3 linked regions of the Homo sapiens genome follow. The protein of the gene in region 1 interacts with the protein of each later gene in a biochemical or structural test. Each region holds a gene or a part of one and is shown on either strand. Other genes may lie near its edges.

The links. Proteins that work in one complex are often made in the same cells at the same time.
Region 2: the proteins of TGFB1I1 (region 1) and PTPN12 form a complex in vitro, tested with the Homo sapiens proteins (one study listed by BioGRID).
Region 3: the proteins of TGFB1I1 (region 1) and SLC6A3 form a complex in vitro, tested with the Homo sapiens proteins (one study listed by BioGRID).

What each region holds. Positions count from the first base shown.
Region 1 is NC_000016.10:31,468,281-31,475,167, reverse strand, and holds the start of TGFB1I1 (transforming growth factor beta-1-induced transcript 1 protein), read right to left. Parts: upstream 3,017-6,887; 5' UTR 2,980-3,016; coding exon 2,967-2,979; intron 2,961-2,966; exon of another isoform or gene 2,945-2,960; intron 2,766-2,944; exon of another isoform or gene 2,719-2,765; intron 1,964-2,718; exon of another isoform or gene 1,918-1,963; intron 1,728-1,917; coding exon 1,612-1,727; intron 1,487-1,611; coding exon 1,434-1,486; intron 1,334-1,433; coding exon 1,191-1,333; intron 1,017-1,190; coding exon 929-1,016; intron 819-928; coding exon 713-818; intron 606-712; coding exon 411-605; intron 1-410. UniProt on the Homo sapiens protein: Functions as a molecular adapter coordinating multiple protein-protein interactions at the focal adhesion complex and in the nucleus. Links various intracellular signaling modules to plasma membrane receptors and regulates the Wnt and TGFB signaling pathways.
Region 2 is NC_000007.14:77,631,271-77,638,294, reverse strand, and holds part of PTPN12 (tyrosine-protein phosphatase non-receptor type 12), read right to left. Parts: intron 5,948-7,024; coding exon 5,870-5,947; intron 2,530-5,869; exon of another isoform or gene 2,514-2,529; coding exon 2,446-2,513; intron 1,278-2,445; coding exon 1,247-1,277; intron 1-1,246. UniProt on the Homo sapiens protein: Dephosphorylates a range of proteins, and thereby regulates cellular signaling cascades. Dephosphorylates cellular tyrosine kinases, such as ERBB2 and PTK2B/PYK2, and thereby regulates signaling via ERBB2 and PTK2B/PYK2.
Region 3 is NC_000005.10:1,393,441-1,400,464, reverse strand, and holds part of SLC6A3 (sodium-dependent dopamine transporter), read left to right. Parts: intron 1-5,706; coding exon 5,707-5,730; 3' UTR 5,731-7,024. UniProt on the Homo sapiens protein: Mediates sodium- and chloride-dependent transport of dopamine. Also mediates sodium- and chloride-dependent transport of norepinephrine (also known as noradrenaline). Regulator of light-dependent retinal hyaloid vessel regression, downstream of OPN5 signaling.

The sequences.
Region 1 (6,887 bases):
TAGGCACAGCTGTTGTCAATCACATCTGCTCAGTCAATAAAACAAGGACCAGTGAACCCAGTCCAGACTCTGACGGAGGAAGAGAGAGCCTTTGTAGATGCCTGAGAGATATTGGGTGGAGCCACAGAGTGTTTTGTGAAGATCAGATGAGATGAGGGTTTGTAAAGGAGCTGGCACAGTGCCTGGCACACAGTAGGACCACAATAAATGGTAACATGGTTGGAATTTTCACCCTACCACTAACCTGCTGTGTGGTTCAGAGCTTCAGTTTCCTCATCCATAAAACATAAGTAATAATGATACCCACTTCCCAGATTAACTTACTAAAAGGGAACAGCATAAAGCCCAGCTCTCACTAAAGATGGGTCTGTGACAGGTCTCTGCCTCCCTTCTCACAAGGCTCCACTTACTTGCCCAGCAATAGGTTTATTGCAGGAGCCACAGAGGCCTTTGGCCTGGGTGGGAACACCCCGGCGGCTGAGGTCGGACTGCAGCAGCCCCAGCATGGTGTCTAGGCTGCCCTTGCCAGTCGGCTCTGGTGGGGATGGGGAGCCCTCATTTGTGGAGCTCACCACCGGTGGCTGAGTTGGCCCAGAGGCTGGAAGCTGCAGCGGGGAGGACATGAGAATTGAGTCAGCAAAGCAGCAGATGTGGAATTGTCTAGAAGGGGTTGGGGAGCCACAAATGGACACTGGCCCACTGCCCAACTCACATGGTTTTGAACGCGGAAGTCAGAGAGTGAGGCCATCAGTCTATCCAGCTCCAGAGTGGCTGAGGTGGCAGAAGCCTTTGGGAGGCCAGGAGACGGGCTGGAAGGGCTGTGAAGAACATGCTTGTGTCATCTCAGAGCCTCCCAGAGCAACGCTCCCTCTAGTGACTCAGATATCCAGGACTCATCTCTCAGCCCTGACAACGACGCCAAACTCACAGGCTGGGTCTTTTCTTATCTTCAGACTGGTCCTCCTTCTGCTCTCCTGAAGCCACCTTGCTAGATGGGAACTGAGACATGATTTCATCTGGAGAGAGGAGAGGAGGACGCTACATATAGGGCCATGCTCAACGCACCCTCACACTTGAGGCTTTAGGTCCCTTTAACTGCTACTCTGGGAAGTGTATTCCTCTTAGTCTCTGCCCCACCCTTCCCTCCCCTGCCCCTATCGCATCAAGGCCTCTCTCAGTCACCCTGGTACCTGTGATGTTGAACTGAGTGGCATTAAGTTCCTGAAGCAACCGATCTAGCTCACAGAGCCCGGTACCCAAGACACCGCTGGAAGAGGAGAATGGAGGGGCCGCCGGGGCTGCAGGCTTTGGGGACCGAGGCTTGCATACCGTGCTGGGAAGCAGAGTGGGAGCCTGGGTTCAGGGGTGGGGAATCCAAGCCTCCTCACCTGAGACTCAGTTGGCCCCCATGCCCTGGTTTCCAGGCCCCTCACCTGTACAGGTGGTCCTTGTCCCCCGAGGCTCCTGAAGACTCCCCAGACCCTGTCTACAGAGCGGAGACGCACAGGTGGGATGACAGGCCTGCACTCTGCCCCACTGAGGCTGAGATCCCCATAGACCAGGCCGAGCCTGGCCCTAGTGGCTGCCCCAGTCCCCAACATCCGATCTCACCTGTGGCTGGTGGCCATAGGATGGGGGAGGGGTGAGAGGCTCCGCAGGGCGCTCTTTGGGAGCCCCTGACCTTGGCATGTGCGAGGTGGTAGTCTCCAGGTCAGAGAGCAGGGCATCTGCAGGAAGAGGCCATCAGGGAGAGAGACAAGGGTCACGGTTAGATCAGAAGATAAGGTTCCCAGTGGGCAGTACTGGAGAAGGACAGAAGCCAGTATTAAGAGAAGAGGTCACAGGGCCAGAGCCAGGCAGAGCACTGCTCGAAGGGTAGCAAGGAATATTTATGACCAGAATATCCCAGTTGCTCACGCTTGGAGCCAAGCACAAACCCAGCCTCCTGATTATTTTATTCTCCCCATCTTCTCTGATGCAGTCAAAATGGGCTCTTCACCCAAGCCAAATTTGGCTCCCCTCCAAATTGCTCCATTGGCCCAGTGCCTGGCCCTCAGCTTTCTGATTGGACGCTCTCTCTTCCATGCTGGTTAACTCCTCCCTCTACCTACACAGGCCCCGCCCAGCCTGGCCACTCCCAGGCCCCTGAGTCCCGCCCTGGGCTCCTCACTGGCGCTTCGCTGGGACCTGCCTTCTGATTGGCTGTTTATCTGCGGTACAGCGTCAGTTACCCCTACCGAGCAGCGCCCTCTACCGCCAGGGGCCGGAAGCCCCTCTCTCCCGTGGAGCGCACAGCCTTCCAGCCCCAGGCTTCGCAGGGAGGACGAGATACCTGGGTCCCCCTTCCGGACAAGACACCTCTCTCCATCCCTGCATCCCCAGATCCGGGTCTTTTGAGCCCTTTCACTTCCAGAACCCAGAAGTCCTGCCCTCAGTCTTCGTCTCTGAGCACCCGCGTGAAACCCTGAAGCCTTCGCGGGCGCCTAGGCACTCCTGAGTTACTATTCTCTTCCTTGCCTCAAGGACCTGACCCTCACTGTGCTCAGGAGCCCTTAACTCCTCCTCTCCCAAAACTCTGGTGCAGGCAGGCCCGCTTTTTTTCTCCAAAACTTGATGCCAGACTTTCCCGTGCCCTCTACTTTCCCGGTCCCCGGGCCGAGGCCCCTTTAACCCCTCCCTCCCCAGAGCCCCGCGCCCGGGCGCCCGCGGGCGCCGCACCTCCCGTTCCATCTGCCGCAGCCTGGGATGGAGGAGCACAGCGAGGGAAGAAGGGAGGGAGCGGCCGGCCCAGGAAAGGCAGGAAGGGAGAGGCAGGAAGGGGGACGTGGAGTTGGAAAGGAGGCGCGGGCAGAGGCGAAAAGCAGAAGTAAGAAGACAGGGATGGGGAGATGCGGGAGAGCGACGGCGGGGAGGCAGCTCTGGGCAGCGGTGAGGGGCCACGGACCCGGGGATCCGGCCCCACTCACCCAGGTCCTCCATGGCGGGGCGCGGGCCGGTGGCGCGGGGCGAACAGGGCGGGGGCCGTGTCCGGTGGGGGCGGGGGGCGGGGGACGTCCGGGAGCTGGAAGCCCGGCCGTGACCATGTAAGGAAGCCGGGACCCGCTGAGATGGGGATGGGGGGGCGATGAACGGGGGAACCCGAGGTGGGGGCGTGGAAAGGAGGGAGCGCCCCGGCCCACCCGAGCCCAGCCCGCCGGCCTGCCGCGGAGGCGGCCACACCCCAGCCTTGGCCTCAGCTGCAGGGAGCCCCAGGAGGCCAGAGCCAGAGAGAAGTGGCTTCTCCAGACCAAGCCCCAGAGCCGCTCCCTAGGGAGACTTACAGACACGGACTGAGGCCCCCAAACAGACACCGCTCAAAGCTAGCGCCTGAGTCCTAGACAAGAGCCTCCCTCCCACCCATGCCATTCCTGGGAGACTTGTCCCAGACGGAATTTTTGGATTGGTAGCAGGAGTGATATTCTAAGGCTCAATTAGACCTCAGGTTCGGAGACCCTCCCATCGGAGACCCTGACAGATAAATAGAGGCCCCAAGAGGCATACATACCAGACACAAAGAAATCTGAGGGACGGGGACAGACACAGTGAACCCACCCACAGACTCTACACTAGGACCTTCCCTCCAAGACTTGGTCATGGACACACGTAAACTCGAACCCGGGCGCAAGCCCCTTGCAAATTCGGGGAAAACACTCCCAGGCAACCAACCCCCAGCCAGCCTGCAAGACAAAGCCCTTCCTCAGCACTGAGGTGGCCCAGGCCTGCTCTGAAACAGCCCTTTCCCAAGTTACTGATGAACTCAGAGCAGAAAGCAAGACACAGTCTCCAGCCACAAAGTGGCAAGGCCTTCCCTGGACTGAGACCCTGAGAAACGAGGTGGAAACGAGAGGCCATAGAGGTAGTTATGGACAGACAACTGTGCTGCAGCCACTCTTCTGGACAGATCTGAGCACTGGAATGTGAGTATCAACCCAGCAGCAAATCGGAACAACCTGGGGAGCTTTTTAAAAATGCGAGACAGGCATGGTGGCTCACACCTATAATCCTAGCACTTTGGGAGGTCAAGGCGGGCAGGTCACTTGAGGTCAGGAGTTCGAGACCAGCCTGGCCAACATGACAAAACCCCATCTCTACTAAAAACACAAAATTAGCTGTGCGTGGTGGTGGGAGCCTGTAATTCCAGCTACTTGGGAGGCTGAGACAGGAGAATTGCTTGAAACCTGGAGGCAGAGGCTGCAGTGAGCTGAGATTGTGCCACTGAACTCCTGAGCAACAGAGGAGACCCTGTGTCAAGAATAAAAAAGAAAAAGAAGAAAAAATGGGCAAACGACCTGAATAGACAGTTCAAAGAAGTTATATAAATAGCCAATGATTACATGAAAAGATCCTCAACATCATTAGTCCCCAGAGAAATGCAAATCAAAACTACAATGAGATGCCACATCATACCTATTAGGATGGCAATAACAAAAAAGACAGGTAATTAGGCAAGGAGCAGTGGCTCACACCTGTAATCCTAACACTTTGGAAGGCCGAGGTGGGTGGATCCCCTGAGGTCAGGAGTTCGAGACCAGCCTGGCTAACATGGTGAAAACAGTCTCTACTAAAAACACACAAAAAAATTAGCCAGACATGGTGGTGGGCACCTGTAGTCCCAGCTACTTGGGAGGCTGAGGCGGAAGAATCCCTTGAACCTGGCAGGTGGAGGCTGCAGTGAGCTGAGATCGTGCCACTGCACTCCAGCCTGAGCAACAGAGCGAGACTCCATCTCAAATAATAATGATAATATTTTAAAGGCCAGGCTCAGTGGTTCACGCCTGTAATCCCAACACTCTGGGAGGCCGAGGCGGGCGGATCACCTGAGGTCTGGAGTTGGAGACCAGCCTGGTTAACTTGGCAAAACCCCGTCTCTACTAAAAATACAAAAATTAGCTGGGTGTGGTGGCAGGCACCTGTAATCCCAGCTACTCGGGAGGCTGAGGCAGGAGAATCACTTGAACTCGGGAGGCAGAGGTTGCAGTGAGCAGAGATTGTGCCACTGCACTCCAGCCTGGTGACAGAGTGAGATTCCGACTCAAAAAAAAAAAAAAAAAAAGCTGAAAAGAAAGAGGTAATTAGCAAGTTTTTGTGAGGATATGGAGAGATTGGAACCCTCACACATGGCTGGTTGGAATGTAAAATCGTTCACTAACTTTGGAAAATGGTCTGGCAGTTCCTCACATGTTTAAACATAGAGTTATATGATCCAGCAATTTCCCTTCTAGATATGTAACCAAGAGAAATAAAAGCATATTCCACAAAAAAACTTGTACATGAGTATTCATAGCAGCATTATTCATAATAGCCCGAGTGGAAACAACCCAAATGTCCGTCAACTGATGATTGAAGAAATGAAAGTGGCATATCCATGTCTTAGTCTGTTTTGTGCTGCATCGTAGAATGCCTAAGGCTGGATAATTTATAAAGAATAGAAATATCTTTCTTTCAGTTCTAGAGGTTGGGAAGTCGAAGGTCAAGGGCCCTGCATCTGGTGAGGGCCTTCTTTCTGCCTCATCCCACAGCAGAAAGCAGAAGGGCAAGACAGTGCAAGAGAGGGGGTGGGGTGGGGGCAGAACCCATCCATTTATCTATCAGCTGTCCACTCCCTTGATAACTAACCTACTCATGCAATAATGCCATTAATCCATTCATGAGGGAAGAGCCCACATAACCTAATCACTTCTTAAAGTTCCCACCTCTCAACAGTTGAATTGGGGGTTAAGTTTCCAACACATGAACTCTGGGGTACATGTTCAAACCACAGCAATCCATAAAGTGAAACTGTATTATTCCTAATAAAAAGAAATGAGATGCTACAGTGTGGATGAACCTTGATAACATTAAGCTATATGAAAGAGGCCAGATATGAAAGATCACACATTGTATGATTCCATTTATATGACATGTCCAGAATAGGTCATCTGTAGAGATACGATGTAGATTAGTGATTGCCTAGGGTTGGGGGAAAGGGAGTGTTATGGACTGAATGTTTGTGTCTCCCCCACATTTATACATCACAGTTCAACCCTCAGTGTGACTATATTTGAAGATAGGGCCTGACTGGGCGCGGTGGCTCACGCCTGTAATCCCAGCACTTTGGGAGGCCAAGGCAGACAGATCACCTGAGGTCAGGAGTTCGAGACCAGGCTGGCCAACATGGTGAAACCCCATTTCTACTAAAAATACAAAAAAAGTTAGCCGGGCATGGTGGCACCTGTAATCCCAGCTACTTGGGAGGCTGAGGCATGAGAATTGCTTGAACCAGAGAGGCGGAGGCTGCAATGAGTCAATATTGTACCACCACACTCCAGCCTGGGTGACAGAACAAGATTCCAAAAAATAAAATAAAATAAAATAAAATACCGATGCCCAGTCCAATGTGAGCAAAAAGACCCCAGGCATCAATAGTTTTTCAAAGCTCACTGCTTGGTTCTAATGCATAGCCTGAAAACCAGAGACCTGGACCAACACTCACAGAGGCTCAGAGACAGCAAGTGCCAACCTCAGCTGCCCAGAAGCAAACCTTGGCAGGCCCAGTGCAGCTCTCCCCAAAATCAGGCTGCCACTGAGGAGTCAAAAATCTGCAAGCCAATTATTAAACAGTAAAAGAGCAACAGATGTTGGCATGAATGTGGAGAAAGAGGAATACTTATACACTGTTGGTGGGAATGTAAATTAGCTCAACCTCTCTGGAAAACAGCATAGAGATTTCTCAAAGACCTACAACTAGAACTATCATTTGACTCAGAAATCCCACTAACGAGCATCTACCCACAGGAAAAGAAATCATGTAAAAGACAGCTGGACTCATTGTGTTTATTGCAGTACTATTCACAATAGCAAAGTCATGG
Region 2 (7,024 bases), on another chromosome or scaffold:
CAACTGAAATGTCTTTGTATAGAAATCAACAAGGTCAGGCCAGGCGCGGTGGCTCATGCCTGTAATCCCAGCACTTTGGGAGGCCGAGGCGAGCCGATCATGAGGTCAGGATATCGAGATCATCCTGGCTAACATGGTGAAACCCCGTCTCTACTAAAAATACAAAAAAATTAGCCAGGCGTGGTGGCGGGCGCCTGTAGTCCCAGCTACTCAGGAGGCTGAGGCAGGAGAATGTTGTGAACCCAGGAGGTGGAGCTTGCAGTGAGCCGAGATCGCGCCACTGCACTCCAGCCTGGGCGACAGAGCAAGACCTCTGTCTCAAAAAAAAAAAAAAAAAAAAAAAAAAAAATTTTAAGAAATCAACAAGGTCAGGGTTAATTAATGCACTATTTGCACCTTGAAATAATAACTCTACTTGTTTTTTTTTTTTTTTTTTTGAGACGGAGTTTCCCTCTTGTTGCCCGGGTTGGAGTGCAATGGCGCAATCTCGGCGCACTGCAACCTCTGCCTCCGGGGTTCAAGGGATTCTCCTGCCTCAGTCTCCCTAGTAGCTGGGATTACAGGCAGATGGCATGACGCCTAGCTATTTTTTTTATTTTTAGTAGAGACGGGGTTTCACCATGTTGCTCAAGGCTGGTTTCGAACTCCTGACCTCAGGTGATTGCCTGCCTGGGTCTCCCAAAGTGCTGGGATTATAGGTGTGAGCCACCACGCCAGGCCTAATAACTCCACTTTTAAAGTTTTATGTTGTTTAGATTGTAGTTTACTCTTTAATTACCAGTGTTTAAGATTAGTAACAAAAGATGTTAACTACTAAAATTCATTCATTCTTTCACAATTTTATTGGTCTTCACAAATAAATGAAAAAGTACTAAAAGGAAGATTTCTAAAACAATAGGTTTCTACAGAAGCAATTCCATCATTTATTTAAGTCGGGATCTAACTTCTAGGTGTTTTTAAAAACAGAAAATAAAAAACAGAAAAATATTTTTAAAAAATCTCTTTCCCATTAGCCTGTAATTATTGATAGTAAATGCTCCCATGATTTTCCAGATCAATACTACTATCTGGTGGTAATAATTAATTTGGAAGAATTATAGTACAATATTAAGCTTCTACAAGAGTTGTCCTAGACATTTTCACATACAGAAATAACTATATAGCATGAACTATGAAGCATGTTATTTTGTAGAAATTAATCAATAAAATCTACAGTAAAAAGGAAAAAAAAAATCTAACAACTTACCACATTTCTCATTTTCAGAGGTTATCAAGCCCTACGAGGAAGACATTTAATACCTATTACAATACATTCATTTTATATACAAATAATAGAAAGCTGGGTCTGTTATGGGTATATATCCCAAGAAATCAAGGCCTATCATTTTCAGCATCAGAGGAAAAGCAAACAATTGTTTTTTAATTAGGCTTAAAATTTTAAAATGTTATGCTATTTCTCCTTGGAGTAAATGTTTCTGGATGAGCACTGAAAAGCATGGGCTACTGCATGAAGGAACATACAGCTGTGTTTTGCCAGCCACTATTACTAATTATATCATTATTGTATTTTATATGTCAATTAAACTACATCATGTCTTAAAATCAAATATAAGATGTAGCTAAATTTCAGAGATATTAAAGTATGGGAGAAAATACAAAAAGTATTAATGTTAATAAAAAATGTTATCTCCTATGGACAAATGTGTTGTTGCTGAGACAGGGTCTCACTCTGTCACTCAGGCTGGAGTGCAGTGGTGTGATCATGGCTCACTGCAGCCTTGACCTCTGGGGCCCAAGCAATCCTCCCATCTCAGCCTCCCAAAAAGCTGGGACCATAGACATGCGCCACCACGCCTGGCTAATTTTAAAAATTTTTGTAGAGATAAGGTCTCCCCATGTTGCCCAGGATGGTCTTGAACTCCTGGGCTCAAGTGATCCTTCTGCTTGGCCTCCCAAAGTGCTGTGATTACAGACATGAGCCACCATGCCACGCCCTCAAAATATTTAATTGCCAAAACATTTCTCGAATGTCAAAGAAATGCCAGGTAGCCAGAAAAAAACAAAAGAAGCGACTATGTGCCTAGTGTTATAATGGGAAGCATCTAGAAATGTAAGAAAGAATTAGGACCCTGAAAATAGTAACTCCTATTTCATTCATACCTTCAAAATTATTTGAAGCATAATTTACATATTTCAAAAACAGCTTGAGAAAACAATACTTTAAAGTGATAGTTGTATGTAGATCAGGTTACCCTTTTAAAAAATTTCAGAACCTACCTTTTATATGGGCTTTTCATCTGAAATCTTAGTATAAGAAATGCCGATCAAAAATTACAAACTATATTTAACGATCTTAAGATGACAGCTATTTCAACAACTGCAAGATTAGTTAACAAAAGAGTAGAAATGTTAAGCTATAACTGTTCCAATTCCAAAAGGACTTACTTCAGACTTTTTTTGTTCAGATCGTTCCTGACTTTGAAGTTCACTCCATTCCGATCTTACAGGTGTATCTGAGAAAAATGAAATCTTATTGTTATTAACACCTTGAATTTCTGAAATTTCTTTGCATTAAAGTAATACAAAAAACAGATCCTAAAGATTTTAGAAACTATCGCTTCCACAAAAATTTTGTAGTTTCTGGGTAAGCATATTTCTGAAGTTTCTAAAAAAAAAAAATTGTAGTTTCTATTAATTCGAGAACATTCTGTTTCCTTCCTTCAAAACCTAAGTAAATAAATTCAGTCATCAGTGTATTACAGTCTATAGATAATGTGACAGACAAGTGAAGTATACTGCTTAATCTACAGACAACGTGACAGACTTAGACAACTGAAGTATACCGTTTCATTGCTTTCAACATTCTTTTTAATTGTTGTTGAGACAGGGTCTCACTCTGTTGACCAGGCGCGATCTCGGCTCACTGGAGCCTCAACCTCCCAGGCTCAGGCAATCTTCCCATCTCAGCTTCTTGAGTAGCTGGGACTATAGGTGCATGCCACCTCGCCTGGCTAATTTTTGATTTTATACAGACAGGGTTTTGCCATGTTGCCCAGGCTGGTCTCAAACTCCTAGGGCAAATGGAACAGAGATCCACCTGCCTTGGTCTCCCAAAGTGCTGGGATCACAGGCATAAGCCATTGTGCTTGGCTCTTTAACATTTATCTTAAAATCAGTCAAAATTCACTTTGGGAGGCTGAGGCAGGCAGATCACTTGAGGTCAGGAGTTCAAGACCAGCCTGGCCAACATGGTGAGACCCTATCTCTAATAAAAAAATTAGTTGGGAGTGACGGTGTATGCCTCTAATCGCAGCTACTCAGGAGGCTGAGGCAGGAGAACAGCTTGAGCCCAGATCGTGCCACTGCACTCCAGCCTGAGTGACAGAGTGGAACTCCAACTCGAAATAAAACAAAACAAGGCCGGGCGTGGTGGCTCCCGCCTGTAATCCCAGCACTTTGGGAGGCTGAGGCGGGCGATCACGAGGTCAGGAGATGGAGACCATCCTGGCTAACATGGTGAAACCCTGTCTCTACTAAAAAAATACAAAAAAATTAGCCGGGCGTGGTGGCTCATGCCTGTAATCCCAGCACTTTGAGAGGCTGAGGTGGGCGGATCATGAGGTCAGGAGATGGACCATCCTGGCTAACACGGTGAAACCCTGTCTCTACTAAAAAAAATACAAAAAAATAAGCCGGGTGTGGTGGCAGGCACCTGTAGTCCCAGCTACATGGGAGGCTGAGGCAGGAGAATGGCATGAACCCAAGAGGTGGAGCTTGCAGTGAGCCGAGATCGTGCCACTGCACTCCAGCCGGGGCGACAGAATGAGACTCCATCTCAAAAAAATGAATAAATAAAAAATAAATAAATAAAAAGAAAACCAAATGAAACAAAACAAAAATCAGTCAAAATTAATATATTGGTAAAATGTACTTAGACAAGTGAGCACCTCCACTGAGCATGAGACACTGTAAATACAATCAAGCTGTTTCTGCACTCTTTTTTAGAGGATTAATAGGGAGAAGTATATTATCAATGTTTTAAAGTATCATCACTTTCTCCCAGTTCTGATACTCCAGTGGTCTTTTTTTTTTCTTCCACAGACGGGGTCTCACTGTTACCAAACTGGAGTACAGTGGTGCGATCATGGCTCACTGCAGCCTCCAACTACAGGGATCAAGCAATCCTTCTTCTTCAGCCTCCTGAGTAGCAAGGACTACAGGCACATGCCACCACACCTGGCTAATTTTTTGTTGTTATTATTATTTTTTGAGACAAAGTTTTTTGCTCTTGTTGCCCAGGCTGGAATGCAATGGCGTGGTCTCAGCTCGCTGCAACCTCTGCATCCTGGGTTCAAGCAATTCTCCTGCCTCAGCCTCCCAAGCAGCTGGGATTACAGGCGCCCACCACCACAACTGGACAGTTATTTTATTTTTAGAAGAGAGGAGGTATCACTGTGTTGCCCAGGCTGGTCTCAAACTCTTAGGCTCAAGCAATCCTCGCGCCTTGGACTCCCAAAGTGCTGCGATTACAGGTATGAGCCAATGTGCTCAGTCTACTCCAGTGGTGTTAAATGTCTTTCAGTTAACACCAATCCAGTGACGCCCACCCAACAGAAATGTTTACTGACCTAAATCTAAGGAAAGCAATTAATGTTTTCATAAATAAGTGCTACTTTTTTTTTTTTTGAGATGGAGTCTTGCTCTGTTGCCCAGGCTGGAGTGCAGTGGCATGGTCTCGGCTCACTCCAACCTCTGCCTCCGGGGTTCAAGCGATTCTCCTGCCTCAGCCTCCCGAGCAGCTGGGACTACTGGTGCATGCCACCACACACAGCTAATTTTTTGTATTTCTAGTAGAGACAGGGTTTCAGTGTGTTAGCCAGGATGGTCTTGATGTCCTGACCTCGTGATCTGCCCGCCTTGGTCTCCCAAAGTGGCAGGATTACAGGCATGAGTCAATAAGTGCTATTTTTAATGAATGAAAATACACCAGATTGCAAATACACTTATAATTGCATTTTTTTTTTAAGATGGAGTTTCGCTCTTGTTGCCCAGGTTGGAGTGCAATAGTGTGATCTCGGCTCACTGCAATATCCACCTCCCAGGTTCAAGCAATTCTCCTGCCTCAGTCTCCCAAGTAGGTGGGATTACAGGCATGCGCCACCACGCCTGGCTAATTTTGTATTTTTAGTAGAGACGGGGTTTCTCCATGTTGGTCACGCTGGTCTTGAACTCCTGACCTCAGGTGATCAGTGCATCTCAGCCTCCCAAGGTGCTGGGATTACAGGTATGAGCCACTGCACCTGGCTTTGTAATTGCATTTATTTATTTATTTACTTTTTGAGACGAAATCTTGCTCTTCGCCCAGGCTGGAATGCAATGGCGCAATCTCGGCTCACTGCAACCTCCAACTCCCGGGTTCAAGTCATTTTCCTGCCTCAGCCTCTCAAGTAGCTGAGATTATAGGTGTCCACCACCATGCCCAGCTAATTTTTATATTTTTAGTAGAGATGGAGTTTCACCATGTTGGCCAGGCTGGTCTCCAACTCCTGACCTCAGGTGATCCACCTGCCTAGGCCTCCCAAAGTGCTAGGATCACAGGCTTGAACCACCATGCCCAGCCTATAATTACATTTAAATGAATTGAATTCTGATATCTAACATAAATGCAGTAATTTCTATCGATCTTAGCAAGTAAAAAATATAATTTAAAAGCATTTTTCAAACAAAGAATTAAAAGCATGTCAACATCAATTTACTTGTTTTTGAATTTAATTATGTAGCACAATAGCTAATAGATTAAAATCAGGTATGTTTTTCGGAGTTTATTATTAGAATATGAAGTAAATGTAAAAGCAAAAGAGACACTCACTATGTTCACTTGCTAACACAAACGATTCAGGAGTTCTTTCAGGTAGGGGAGGAGGTGAATCTTCACTAACATCAACATCTAAATTAAACACATAAAAATTTAGACAAATTAACATGTCATCTAAACAAAATCAGAGAGCTTTCTTGACATTCTAAAAATTCCTGTCACAAATATCTAGATCAGTTTTTAAAAATGCAAAAAAATGCAAGAAACCTTTTCCACTCATTATCAAGAATTATGATGCTTATTGAGCAAAGATAATGTATACAGAAATGACTCTCTCCCATGACTTTCCTGTCACTCTACAGACATCATTCAGTTCTCCAAGCCTGAAGGGAATCTTCAGTAGAGAAGTCAGCTGGCAAGTGACTTCTCTACTGAGCTTACTGATGATGTTTTGTGTCCAAAAAGGAAAGCTTTGGTCATTTGCGTTATGAAACGCCTAAGCCAGTGTTTCCCAAACAGGATTCAATTGCTTAACACCTTTCATGATTTTTGCCATACTATGTAACATGTGTCCTATTCACTTTTAAAATCTGACTCATTTTAAACTTAACTGTGTACCTCAGTCATGTCTTAAACAGCAATAACTGAAATAACATTGGAAATACTAGTTATTTTTCCAAAACAGATAAAGATATAGCTATTAAAGTTTTTTAAAAAATCTTCATTTATTTATTGCTAAAGATTTTGTGTACAGTGGCACATGGCTGTACTTTGAGAATGCTGACTGAAGCTATATACAGGTTTTTCACTAGTAAAAACAAAATTAGCTCTTGGGAAAGAGAGTGCATTAAGTAAGCCTCATTGGTTAGCTTTATTATGGCTTAAGGTAAATGAGTGTATTTGATCTTTGAGTTTTCACTGGAGGAATAGAAAGAAAATATAAGAATACAATCCTGTGTGTGAACTCTCAGGTTGGGGAGGGTGGGATAAAGAAAAAGAAATGCGACGGTCCTGTATTATTTTGTCTTGAGCCTTGCCCATTGTTCTTAAATGAACACACAGTTCTGCCATGATACTCTGCTATTTTACCACACCTGATGGCTATGCATAGGTCTTGTCAATTTTCAACACGCATGAGGTGAGTATGATTGCTTTTGCCCCACCTACATTTATTTAGCTGGAGACGCAAGAAAATACAGCTTCTGGGTC
Region 3 (7,024 bases), on another chromosome or scaffold:
CTGGCTTCGAGTGAGAGGATGGTCACGCCAGGTGTTTCCTGCACCCTGGGAGCCATCCAGCTGTGTGCGAACATGTTCATGACATGCCGTGGAGCAGGTGCATTCCCGGGGGCACACAGTAAACACTTGACGTGTTTTTACTCCCACAACCCTAAGAGGCAGCCCAGCACTCTCTCTACACCAGGGTCCCTGAGACCCAGAGAGGCCCCGGAATGTGCCCAAGATCACAGAGCTGGCCAGCAGGAGAGGAGCCTGGGCTGTGCCCTGGGCCTGTGGCACTGTCCTCCTCCACCCCAGAGTGGCCTCAGCCCCGACCTGATTCCATACACTAATGTCAGCCTAATGCCGACAGCAGAGTCCAATGCACAGCAAAAGGGAGAGAAGGCCATAGTGTGGAGGGCACCGCGGCCCCACCTCGGACCTGCCTCTTCCCTCTGGCCACCTCTCTGTGGCTGGTTCTCGTAAACAGTCCTCCCAGCAGGGGTCTCATGAGCTCATGCCTGAGGAGCCCAGCATGGACCTGCACATGGGGCAGGAGCAAGGATACAGGCAGAGGGAGGGGGCTCTGCGTGCCTGGGAGGTGGGTGGTGACGTCAGGCAGAACAAGACGCTGAGCAGGGAACAGGCCGGGAGGCAGTGGGGAGAAGCCGCCTCTGAGCACACATCTGCACAGCTTGTTCCTCCTACCTGCAAGTCAGGTTCTGGTGTGGGCTCTGCCTCCCTCCGTTGGCACCCTTTCCTCTGTCCTCCCAGTGACTTGCCTGCTCCAAACACAGGAGGCGTGTCCAGGCATCCCATCCCATCCATCCAGAGGATGCCAGCCCCTCCCCACTGGGCCTCCGGTCCTGCTCCACCAGAGCCTCTCTCCTCTGAGAGTCCTATACCTGGGGGTCTTACACTTTGTACAGGATCTTGCTAGTCTTCTCAAATATCCAACTTTGACTTCATGTGAGATTCTTGCTGTGCTTCCTGTCACATTAATCTCAGCTCCTGTATTTATCATTTCTTCCTCTCTTTTTCTTGGATCTACTCTGTTGTAGTTTTGCTAACTTTTTAATTTGGACTTTAGGTTATTAATTTGCATCCTTCGTTCTTTTCTAATGTAAGCACTCAAGGCTATGAATTTCCCTCAAAATACTCCATGTGCTACATTCCGTATTTTTTTCATAGTATTTTTCTTTATCTTTTAGTTCTAAGTATATTTTAATTTCCATTGTGACTTTGTCAACTCATAACTTGCTTAAAAGTCTGCTTTTAAATTGCCAAATATATGGGGATGTTTTACTCATCTTTTTGTTTTTAATTTCCAAATTAATTTCATTGTTCTCAAACACATATGATACCTATTATTTAAAATGTATTGAGACTTCTTTAGGGCCTTATACCTGATCAACTTTGATAAACGTTGCACATCTTTTAGATGAATGTGCTATTCTCTAATTGTCAATACACAGTTCTGCTTCTGTCCATTTGAGTAGGGTTATATATTATGTTACCCACATTGTCTACACTTTGTCAACTTTAGGGGTGCTTGACCATGAGTAATTGAGAGATGCCTGTGGCATATTCTTCCTCGATAGTATATTTGTTTGCTGTTCCCCTCAGTTCTATCAGGTTTTGCTCTCTGTAGTCTGAGGCTGTTTTCTGAGGTTGATCCATGTCCAGAATGATCATCTCTTCCTGGTGACATGAACCCATCTTCACTCCCTAATGATGCTTTTGGTCTTAAAGTCTGACTTGTCTGGGACAAATATAGTTGCACCAAGGTGTCTTTTGAGTTTGCCTGAAATATCTTTTGCAATCTGTTAACTTTCAACTTTGCAGTAACCTTAAGATTTAAGTGTCTTTTGCAAACCCAGCATACACCTAGAATTTTTTACGCTGACAGTTGGACAGGTTAATCCATTTACATTTGTTGTGATTATTGATATATTTGAACTTGATTCTACTATCTTTCTATTCCATTTGTCCCATTTTTAGTGTTTTTCTCCTTTATTGCCTTTTTATAGATTGATTTTTCTTGGTTCACTCATTTTTATTATTCCGTTTATTTCTCTCTACTTGCTTAGAACTTACATACTTTATTCTTTTTTTTTTTTTTTTTGAGGTGGAGTCTTGCTCTGTCACCCAGGCTGGAGTGCAGTGGCATGATCTCTGCTCACTGCAACCTCCACCTCCCAGGTTCAAGCAATTGTCCTGCCTCAGCCTCTCAAGTGGCTGGGATTACAGGTGCCCAGCACCACACCTGGATAATTTTTGTGTTTTTAGTAGAGACAGGGTTTGACCATGTTGGCCAGGCTGGTCTCGAACTCCTGATCTCAAGTGATCTGCCCACCTCTGCCTCCCAGAGTGCTGGGATTACAGCCGTAAGCCACTGTGCCCGGACTTATTCTATTCCTTTAATAGCTACTCTTGAGGTTGTACCATACATATTTCACTTAAACTCTACAGAGAAACCATATTTTAACCCCATCCCATTATAAGGACTTAAATCTTCCTCCTACTGATGAACATGCTATGATTGTTCAAATCTATTTCTCTCTTTTTAACCCACAAATTAGACACTGTCATTGTTCTTGTTCCTGTTATTATTTTGTACGGACTCATCATGTTCCTTGGACTAATGTGCATGCTTGGTGTTTGTTGGTTCCCATACTTTTGTTATAGACTTCTTTTCTTCTAGGACCATTTTCTTGCTTTTCAAAAAGCATCCTTCAGACATTCCTTTGAGGAGGTCTCTTGCTAACCTCCCTCACTATTGGTGTGTGGGAACATCTTTATGCTGCTCTCATTCACGAAAGCACTGTTGTGGGCTCAGGGCTCTAGGCTGACAGGGACTATCTCTGCGTTTTGGAGGCAGCAGTGTTCCGTGGCTGTGCTGAGATGTGTGGCCTGTGAGCCTGCTCTGTGGTGGGCTCTGTCCTCACCCCTGCACTCGGCCGAGTTTCTTCTGCTTTCGGTGTCTCGGGTTCACTGCGGAGTGTCGGGACCTGGGTTTCTTTTTTGTTTGTTTGTTTGTTTGTTTGTTTGTTTTGAGACGGAGTCTCGCTCTGTAGCCCAGGCTGGAGTGCAGTGGCGCAATCTCGGCTCACTGCAAGCTCCGCCTCCCGGGTTCGCGCCATTCTCCTGCCTCAGCCTCCCGAGTAGCTGGGACTGCAGGCACCCACCACCGTTAATTTGGTTTCTTTTTATTTTTCCTCTCTGGATATGTTTTGTGGCCAGATCTGTGGATTCACAAATCTTGTCATTCTGTGAATTTTGCAGCCACACACTGAAAGATTGCCTTCTGCCTTTCTGTGTTTTCCATTATGAGGCTCTGGTGTGTCCACTTTGCCCCAGGTCCTCCAGGTCTCTTACCTCACTTAGATTTTGTTTTCATTTGAATCTTAGGTGCACAGTTGAGTAACGCATCTTATCATTAATCCACATGTGGCCATTTTTAAATTATTAATTTGTCACCGTAACAAACAGACCCTTGTGAGCCCACAGCAGGAAAACTAGGCACTGTGGAAACTGCCTGCCCCTCACCCATTCTGTATCTGCGTCTAGCTTGATCTTTCCCTTGCCCTTCTTACAATTTCATTTGTTGCATCTCTAGATATTTCTAGCTTCCTAAAAAGTGTATTATTTGGCTTCAGCATTTGGTGTAGCCCTAACCAACCCCTACTGAAGCAAGACCTTATGCACACCCCATGCAGATCCCCGAGAATCATGACATTCTCCTGGCTGGGGGAACAGGCACCGTGCCCAGCCCTGTGTGGGCATCAGAGGTGGTTCCCTCTGGTCCTGTCGGCGGATCTCTCCCCAGCCTCCTCATTCACAGCGGGATGTGCTCGTCTGAACCCTCAGCAGGGGTCCTGGGCCATTGTCCCGGGTCTTCTCTCTGTGTGGCCACCTCCTCTCTGGCGCTCTGGCCTGCAAACTGCAGCCACCTCCGTTTCCCTCGCTCTCCTTTCCAGCGTCTCAGCTCAGGGAGTCCACCAGGCTGCACCCTCCCTGTGCTGCAATCTAGAAACTCCCTCGAGGCAGCGAGCAGGGTGGCAGGGGGGCCTCCTTGTTGGCTTCCCTCAGGGACCACTGACCCTTACGGTCTGGTGTCCATGGTCTGGAAGGTCATCGGCACGTGTGTTTTGTTTATTTGGGGCTTGTTTCGGACAGTAGGGTAAATTCGATCCCTATTATTCCATCTAGGTCAGAAATGTTTGTATCCATAGCTACGTTTCACCTACCGTGACTGGTCCCTGACCGTCCGTCACGTGAACAAACCACAGCTCAGCTATGGACGCTCCGCATTCCACTGCCCTGCCCCTGGTCTGCAGCCCAGCCATTCTCTTTTCTACTTCATCTCTGGAAGCTGCGTGTGCTCTGCTGTTTCTTGTGAAATTCTCATCACTGTGATGTGCGTGTGTCACTTTTCTGAGAGTCCCCTATGTGGCCATCCTGTAATCTGTTGCAACAGCTCTGGTCCTTTGGGGTCAAATTGAGGTCTGGTTTCTGGGGACTCACTTAGAGTGGGCTGCTGTCTTCTGTTTCTAGTCTTTATTTTACATTTATGGCTTGATCTTAATCTGTGGGAATCTGGGAGCCCCCAAGCACACCTCCCTCCAGAGGGGACCTTCTGCTTCTGTCAGCGGGCAGGACAGAGAACTGCTTCACCCTGGGGGGAACAGGACTCACAGCTGAAGTCCCAAGCATGGCTTCTTCATCGCTGGCCTGAAGTGGGGCTGCCACCCAGAGCCTCTGCTCTAGGGCTCTGGCCGCTGGGCCACCCGTGGCTGTGGGTCCTGGCCGGGCTCCCTGACCCCAGCTTCCTTCACTGAGCCCCGAGCTGCACCTGGATGCTGCCTGTGCCGGCATCAGCTGTGGCTGCTCCAGGCCCCCGGTAGACCCCTGGCCTGCAGTGTGATCCCACCCTGGCTGAGGAGGTCCCTGCAGGCTCTTGGTGGAGTGGCCAGAGGAGCCTGTGGTGTGGCCAGTGGTAGCTTCAGTGGCTTTCCATGGCCGGCGTGGTTTTGTCAGAAGCAAGCCCCGCATGCCCCTGTTTGGAAATGTTTATGAAGCACACTTCTTGCCATTTAGTGCTATCGAGGGGCTTTGACGCTCACAAACAGGCTGAACTAACAGCTGCATAATAGCAGGCGATGACATTTGCTGGTGGTGTAAATAGCTGCTCTTGTCTATCTCATCAGTCCCTGAGCAGTCAGTACACGCTGCACTTGCGCCCGCGCGGGTCGCAGAGAGCAAGATGGAGCTGCAGAGGTAGCGTGTCACTCAGATGGAGCATCTGAGGCCCCCAGGAAGGTGGAGGGACGTGGGGGAGAGGTGACATCACCACGTCACACCCAAGTCGCTGGGGTACAATCTGGAACCAGCCCCGGACTGAGGGTGCCCGGCATCTCTCAGACTCAGCATCTGATCAATACGCCCCAGAGGCCACCATGGCCACCACGCCAACCACAGTCTCGCGGCTTTTTAAAAAATCAAGTAATGATTGATTTGTAGGAGTTTGAGTGAGGCATCGGATCCCCGGCACCTGTCAAGGGTGTGTTGGTCCAGGCCCCCAGTGAGCCTCCCCTTCTCCCAGGGCACATGGCCAGGAGGCTGCAAACTGTCTGCTCACTGCCTTCAGCTGCTCTTAGCCACCTTCAGCTGCTCTTAAATGGGGCATCGCCCCAGGGTTTCTGACTAAACCTGTTTTCTTTCCAGCTCCGCCACTGGCTCAAGGTGTAGAGGGAGCAGAGACGAAGACCCCAGGAAGTCATCCTGCAATGGGAGAGACACGAACAAACCAAGGAAATCTAAGTTTCGAGAGAAAGGAGGGCAACTTCTACTCTTCAACCTCTACTGAAAACACAAACAACAAAGCAGAAGACTCCTCTCTTCTGACTGTTTACACCTTTCCGTGCCGGGAGCGCACCTCGCCGTGTCTTGTGTTGCTGTAATAACGACGTAGATCTGTGCAGCGAGGTCCACCCCGTTGTTGTCCCTGCAGGGCAGAAAAACGTCTAACTTCATGCTGTCTGTGTGAGGCTCCCTCCCTCCCTGCTCCCTGCTCCCGGCTCTGAGGCTGCCCCAGGGGCACTGTGTTCTCAGGCGGGGATCACGATCCTTGTAGACGCACCTGCTGAGAATCCCCGTGCTCACAGTAGCTTCCTAGACCATTTACTTTGCCCATATTAAAAAGCCAAGTGTCCTGCTTGGTTTAGCTGTGCAGAAGGTGAAATGGAGGAAACCACAAATTCATGCAAAGTCCTTTCCCGATGCGTGGCTCCCAGCAGAGGCCGTAAATTGAGCGTTCAGTTGACACATTGCACACACAGTCTGTTCAGAGGCATTGGAGGATGGGGGTCCTGGTATGTCTCACCAGGAAATTCTGTTTATGTTCTTGCAGCAGAGAGAAATAAAACTCCTTGAAACCAGCTCAGGCTACTGCCACTCAGGCAGCCTGTGGGTCCTTGCGGTGTAGGGAACGGCCTGAGAGGAGCGTGTCCTATCCCCGGACGCATGCAGGGCCCCCACAGGAGCGTGTCCTATCCCCGGACGCATGCAGGGCCCCCACAGGAGCATGTCCTATCCCTGGACGCATGCAGGGCCCCCACAGGAGCGTGTACTACCCCAGAACGCATGCAGGGCCCCCACAGGAGCGTGTACTACCCCAGGACGCATGCAGGGCCCCCACTGGAGCGTGTACTACCCCAGGACGCATGCAGGGCCCCCACAGGAGCGTGTCCTATCCCCGGACCGGACGCATGCAGGGCCCCCACAGGAGCGTGTACTACCCCAGGACGCATGCAGGGCCCCCACAGGAGCGTGTACTACCCCAGGATGCATGCAGGGCCCCCACAGGAGCGTGTACTACCCCAGGACGCATGCAGGGCCCCCATGCAGGCAGCCTGCAGACCACACTCTGCCTGGCCTTGAGCCGTGACCTCCAGGAAGGGACCCCACTGGAATTTTATTTCTCTCAGGTGCGTGCCACATCAATAACAACAGTTTTTATGTTTGCGAATGGCTTTTTAAAATC